2 separate regions of the Homo sapiens genome follow, and region 1 is linked to region 2. Evidence: fine-mapped expression QTL. Tissue or cell type: whole blood. Region 2 holds a variant in brackets; the other region holds the start of a gene. All regions are shown on one strand. Distances are from middle to middle.

Region 1 (2,643 bases), 26 kb after region 2:
CCCCTGTAGTCCCGGCTACCTGGGAGGCTGAGGTGGAAGGTTCACTTGAGTCCAGGAAGGTTGAGGCTGCAGTGAGCCATGATTACGCCACTGCACTCCAGCCTGGGTGACAGAACAGACTGTCTCAAAGAAAAAAAGAAATTAGAAGTGAATCTCACTGGGCTAAAATCAAGGAGCCAGCAAGAGTTGTGTTTTTTGTTTTTTGTTTTGAGATGGAGTCTCGCTCTTGTCACCCAGGCTGGAGTGCAATGGTGCGATCTCAGCTCACTGCAACGTCTGCCTCCCAGGTTCAAGCGATTCTGGGGAGGGGAGGAGGAGGGAAGCAAGGAGAGAGGAACGCAGGGAGCAGAGCCTGACCTGGTCACAGGGGTCTGGGAAAGACAGAGGCTTTGTTAGAGCCGGCAGCTGAGGGCCGAGGCCGAGCAGGGGTTAGGCCAGCACAGGACGAAAAGGAAGAAAGTTCCAGGTGGAGTCTGGTGGAGAAAGACCGACCTGGAAGGCACCAGCATGTGCACGTGGCAACTGAGGTCGAGGACGTGCCTGAGAGAGAGGAGGAAGGTGCCCTGCGGACCGGGTAGGGTGCGGAGGTCGGGAATGGAGAACGGTCGTTGGGCAGGTCCGGGTACCCGTAGCCAGAACCACCCGGGTGTGCGCAGCTCGGCCAGGCCCCGCCTCCCGGCGTCCCCGCCCCCTGCTGGGCCTCTCTCCGCAGCCGCGAGACCCGCGCTTGGCGCATAGGCCGGTTCTAATTTACAAGAACACCGCGGCCTGAGGCCGGAGAGTCCCTTCAACCCGGGAGGCGGCGGCTGCAGGGAGCCGAGACGGCGCCATTGCCCTCCAGCCTGGGCAAAAAGAGCGAAACTCCGTCTCAAAAAAAAAAAAACATGGCCGAAACCAGGAAGCTGCGCGATGGCGCCACGGCCCCTCTTCTCCCGGCCTGTGTCCGGAAGGTTTCCCTCCGAGGCGCCCCGGCTCCCGCAAGCGGAGGAGAGGGCGGGACGTGCCGGGGCCGGAGCTCAGAGGCCCTGGGGCCGCTCTGCTCTCCCGCCATCGCAAGGGCGGCGCTGACCTGAGGCCTCCCCGCAAAGGTCCCCGAGGCGGCGGCGGCGGCGGGCTGTGAGAACCGCAGAAGAACGCTGGGCGCGCAGCGACCCGTCCACCCCCGCGAGGAGAGACTTCCACAGAGGCAGCGTTTCCACAGCCCAAAGCCACGTTTCTAGGGTGATGCAGCCCCAGTAAGTTCCTGGCGGGGAAGCTCACGGCTGTCAAAAGAACTCTTCGCTCCAGCCGGCGCACGAAGGGGAGGAGGGCAGGAGGCTGCCGCCCGCACAGGTCATCTGATCACGTCGCCCGCCCTAGTCTGCTTTTGTGAATCTCCACTTTGTTCAACCCCCACCCGCCGTCTCTCCCTCCCTGCGCCTTCCCTCTAACCTTAAAGACCCAGCTACCTCTACGCAAATGGTAGCTACCTCTGCGCAGGTGGAAGTTGAGTTCGGTTCACGCGGGACCCTCTTCCCTGTGGCAAGCTGCTGAAGGAGACCTGCTGTTACTGCTTTAGCTGCTGTTCTGCTTAATCTCAGACAGCTGGAAGGTAGTATTCCGCCCTCGCCCAGCCACCCGAGTAAATGAGAATGATGACTGACTGAGACCCTGATGGTGGTGGCTTAGGCTTAATCTCAGACAGCTGGAAGGTAGTATTCCGCCCTCACCCAGCCACCCGAGTAAATGAGAATGATGACTGACTGAGACCCTGATGGTGGTGGCTTAGGCAAGATGAACGTCTGAAATGGAGGCCCAGGGCTGCCACGATGGCTCTGTAGTCATCAGGGAGGGAGCTCCTTTTATCTTGTTACCTACTCCCCTCTTGTGCCCCTTTCTTCCCTTGATCTAAGAAGGTTGCTCCGGATCTCGCCATCTGGCCTGCGTTCAATCAGCAGAAGCTTCCTGGAGGAGCAGGAGGAGGCACTGTGCTCGCATCACATACCAGTGGCCAGAAGTTGGCTTCAGGGAAGCTCAGGAAATAGGATGCGAGAAGCCATGAGACCTCCCCAAACTCTGCAGTAACAGAGTCAACAAGACAATGGCTTAAAGATGGAGAGACCAGTTGATCGGTCACACAAGCTGTTCCACGATAATTCTTGTGTCAGAAGGGGAGGCTGACTACCAGGACCACTGGCCCCACTTCCAGCCCCTCCATTCTGAGTACACTTCAGAGGGCTCTGGCAGGGTGAGGGGGTCTTGGTGGTGCCACAGAGAGTAAAGGTCTAGCACACCCATTGTGGAGATATTTCATGGGGACAACCCAGTGACTTCACTTGAAGTAAAGTGGGATTTTCCAACCTTGAGATTCTTATTTTCTTTGGTATGCGTGTGGAAGAAGTATGAAGGTGGGGGTTGGGAGGGAGAGCAAATGAGCTGTGTGTATGAGGAGCTGGGGCCTGGCTCTTGACAATATCACCCACCCCCACCCCAGGCTTTCCTTGGGGCAGAAAGACTATGGCCGGGGCTTTCAGTGTCGGCTCCGAGGTATAGAGGTATAACCAGTGCTTTTGGCTAAGTCACGTCACTGATGAGCTTCTCTTTCCACCTTGGCAAACCAATTCTTCTGTAAAATGGTCTTCAAAGTTTCTTTTTTAAAGCAGA
Region 2 (2,840 bases):
AGTAGCTGGAACTACAGGTGTGCACCACCACATCTGGCTAATTTTTGTATTTTTAGTAGAGATGGATTCACCTCATTGGCCAGGCTGGTTTTGAACTCCTAGCCTCAAGTGATCTGTCTGCCTCAGCCTCCCAATGTGCTGAGATTACAGGCATGAACCACTGCACCTTGCCTGATCTTTTTAAAATATTTTTCTTTTTTTTCTTTTCTTTTTTTCTTTTTTTTTTTTTTTTTTTTTGAGACAGAGTTTCACTCTTCTTGCCCAGGCTGAAGTGCAATGGCACAATCTCAGCTTACTGCAACCTCCACCTTCTGGATTCAGGCAATTCTCCTGCTTCAGCCTCCCAAGTAGCTGGGATTACAGGTGCCCACCACCATGCCCAGCTAATTTTTTTTTTTTTTTTTAGTAGAGATGGGGTTTCACCATGTTGGCCAGGCTGGTCTCAAACTCCTGACCTCAGGTGACCCACCTGCCTCGGCCTCCGAAAGAGCTGGGCTTATAGGCGTGAGCCACTGTACCCGGCCTAAAGTTTTTTTCTTATGAACTTCCATATACCCATCACTTGGATTCAGCAATTATCAGGATTCTGCTGTTTAACTTTTCCCTTTTTAGTTTTTCCTGATTGAAATATTTTAAATTCCAGATTCCATGCCATTTCACTGCAGACTTCAGTCTGAATTTAAAAAAAAAAAAAAAAGGTCTGGGTGCGGTGGTTCACGCCTGTAATCCCAGCACTTTGGGAGGCTGAGACGGGTGGATCCCCTGAGGTCAGGCGTTGGAGACAGGCCTGCCAACATGGCAAAACCCCATCTCTACTAAAAATATAAAAATTAGCTGAGCATGGTGGCACATACCTGTAATCCCAGCTACTCGGGAGGCTGAGGCAGGAGAATCGCTTGAACCTGGGTGGTGGAGGCTGCAGTGTGCTGAGACGTGCCATTGCACTCCAGCCTGGGCAACAGAGCAAGACTCAGTCTCAAAAAAACAACAAAAAAAAAACAAAAGTTCTAACATAGCCACAATGCCGTTATTATACCAGCCTAAATTAGCTCTGATTCCTTGATATTATCTAACAGAGGTGGGCACACTGCTGGGCTTGTGGACTGTTTTTGTATGGCCTACAAACTAAGAATGATTTTTACACTTTTAAAGGAATGCTTAAACAAAAATAGTACTCAGCAGTTCTGTGTGGCCCACAAAGCCTAAAATATATGCTACCTGGTTCTTACAGAAAATGTTTGCCAACTCCAGTTTAATAAAATAAGTAATTTTTCCAAAACGCATATCCAAGTTTGCTACTCCTTTGCCCGAAGCTCCCGA[G/T]GATCAAGTCTGGACTCCTTATGGTTGCAGCCCTTGTCTTTGCCTACCTGTCTGATTTTCCCTTTGCCTGCCCCAGATGTCTTCGGGGGGTGAACACCAGTTCCTCTGTACCTGCTCTTCCCTTGGCACTCTTCTCTTCCTGAAGCTATTCCTGTAGTCCATCCCCCCTTTCCCACCCTCCATGTCCTGTATTTGCTTTTTTTTTTTTTTTTTTTTTTTTTTGAGACATAGTCTTGCTCTGTCACCCAGGCTGGAGTGCAGTGGCACGATCTCAGCTCACTGCAGGCTCGCCTCCCAGGTTCATGCCATTCTCCTGCCTCAGCCTCCCTAGTAGCTGGAGCTACAGGCGCCCACCACCATGCCCGGCCATTTTTTTGTATTTTTAGTAGAGATGGGGTTTCACGGTGTTAGCCAGGATGGTCTCGATCTCCTGATCTCATGATCTGCCCGCCTCAGCCTCCCAAAGTGCTGGGATTACAGGCGTGAACCACCATGCCCGGCCGCCTCTGTCATTTTTATCATATGGTTATTTTCCTACCAGACTCTCCTACTAGTCTGCAGGCACCTTGATGGCAGGGCCTTGTCATATCCATGTCTTTGGATAGGAATAGCCCGGGGCCTGGAAAACAAACAGGATGCAGACAATAGTCTTAAGTTCCTTGGGCAACACTTAGCCTCAGAAATAACTGATACCCTAGAATGCATCTCCAGTATTGTTTATAAGGATAACTTAATTATCCTTATGTGTTACATTCTTTGTATTGTCTTTATGTTTTAGCAGCATTTACTCTAGTGCTGTCTTGGTGCTTTTCTGCCTGTGTTTTTGATGGATCTTAGTATTGATTAACATAGATTTCATTTCAAGCCATCTATTTTCATTGAAGATGCATGTTTATGTTAATCCATTTTGATTTCACTCAAGAAGAGGATTGGATGAACTACATCAGGTGACGGGACATCATGCGCCCCAACCCAAACAGAGGGGTTTAAGCAGAGCCAGAACAGGGAGGCCCCTGGCCTTCACCTAGGTTAGAGAGGTAAGTGGCAAAGTGTCTGTGATTTTAGGCAGACCAGGCCAGTCAGCAGCCAGTCTAACATGGAATCCCAGAGGACAGGAAGAAAACGAATAATCCACTTGTCAAAGAAACAAAGGAGGACAGATCAGGCTGAGAATCAGTGAGTGGAGTGGCAGTGAGGGTTGACAGTTGCACAGGCGGCTGGTGCAGAAGGCTTTAGGTGCCACAGTAAGTAGCCTGGGAGAACTTGGCACTGCCCAGTGACTAGGTGTGCATTTTACAAAAATTCTTCACAGTGGTTGGAGAAAGAATTGGGCAGGGATAAGAGTGAAGGTCTAGAAACGATGGCAGTCATGCAGAAGAGAATTTAGAAGGCTCAAACTAAGGCCTTAGCAGTAAGAAGGAGGTGGGGGATGGGGTGGGAGCTTCAGAACTACTTAGGCAATAGAATCAGCGGTCCTAGGGGCTGTTTTGGATGTGGCCAAGGGAAGTAGCCCATTTCTG

Evidence for each region. PIP is the estimated chance that this variant, and not a neighbour inherited with it, causes the effect.
Region 1: it holds the start of LINC00847, and the variant in region 2 is fine-mapped to the expression of LINC00847 in whole blood (INTERVAL, PIP above 0.99).

Annotation. Positions count from the first base shown.
Region 1 is chr5:180,829,656-180,832,298 of GRCh38, reverse strand. It overlaps LINC00847 (long intergenic non-protein coding RNA 847), which reads right to left and starts at 1,342. Exons shown (of 3, transcript NR_045679.1): 1 at 1,070-1,342. HEIH (hepatocellular carcinoma up-regulated EZH2-associated long non-coding RNA) reads left to right here and starts at 681. Exons shown (of 1, transcript NR_045680.1): 1 at 681-2,345. It also overlaps a transcript of ZFP62 not described here. RefSeq lists silencers at 1-136, 577-706, 1,067-1,116.
Region 2 is chr5:180,855,655-180,858,494 of GRCh38, reverse strand. All of the region lies in intron 1 of ZFP62 (ZFP62 zinc finger protein), which reads left to right. Among named protein-coding and RNA genes, the nearest start is that of ZFP62, 4.2 kb to the left of the region's middle. The variant G/T (reference allele first, on the strand shown) is at 1,321.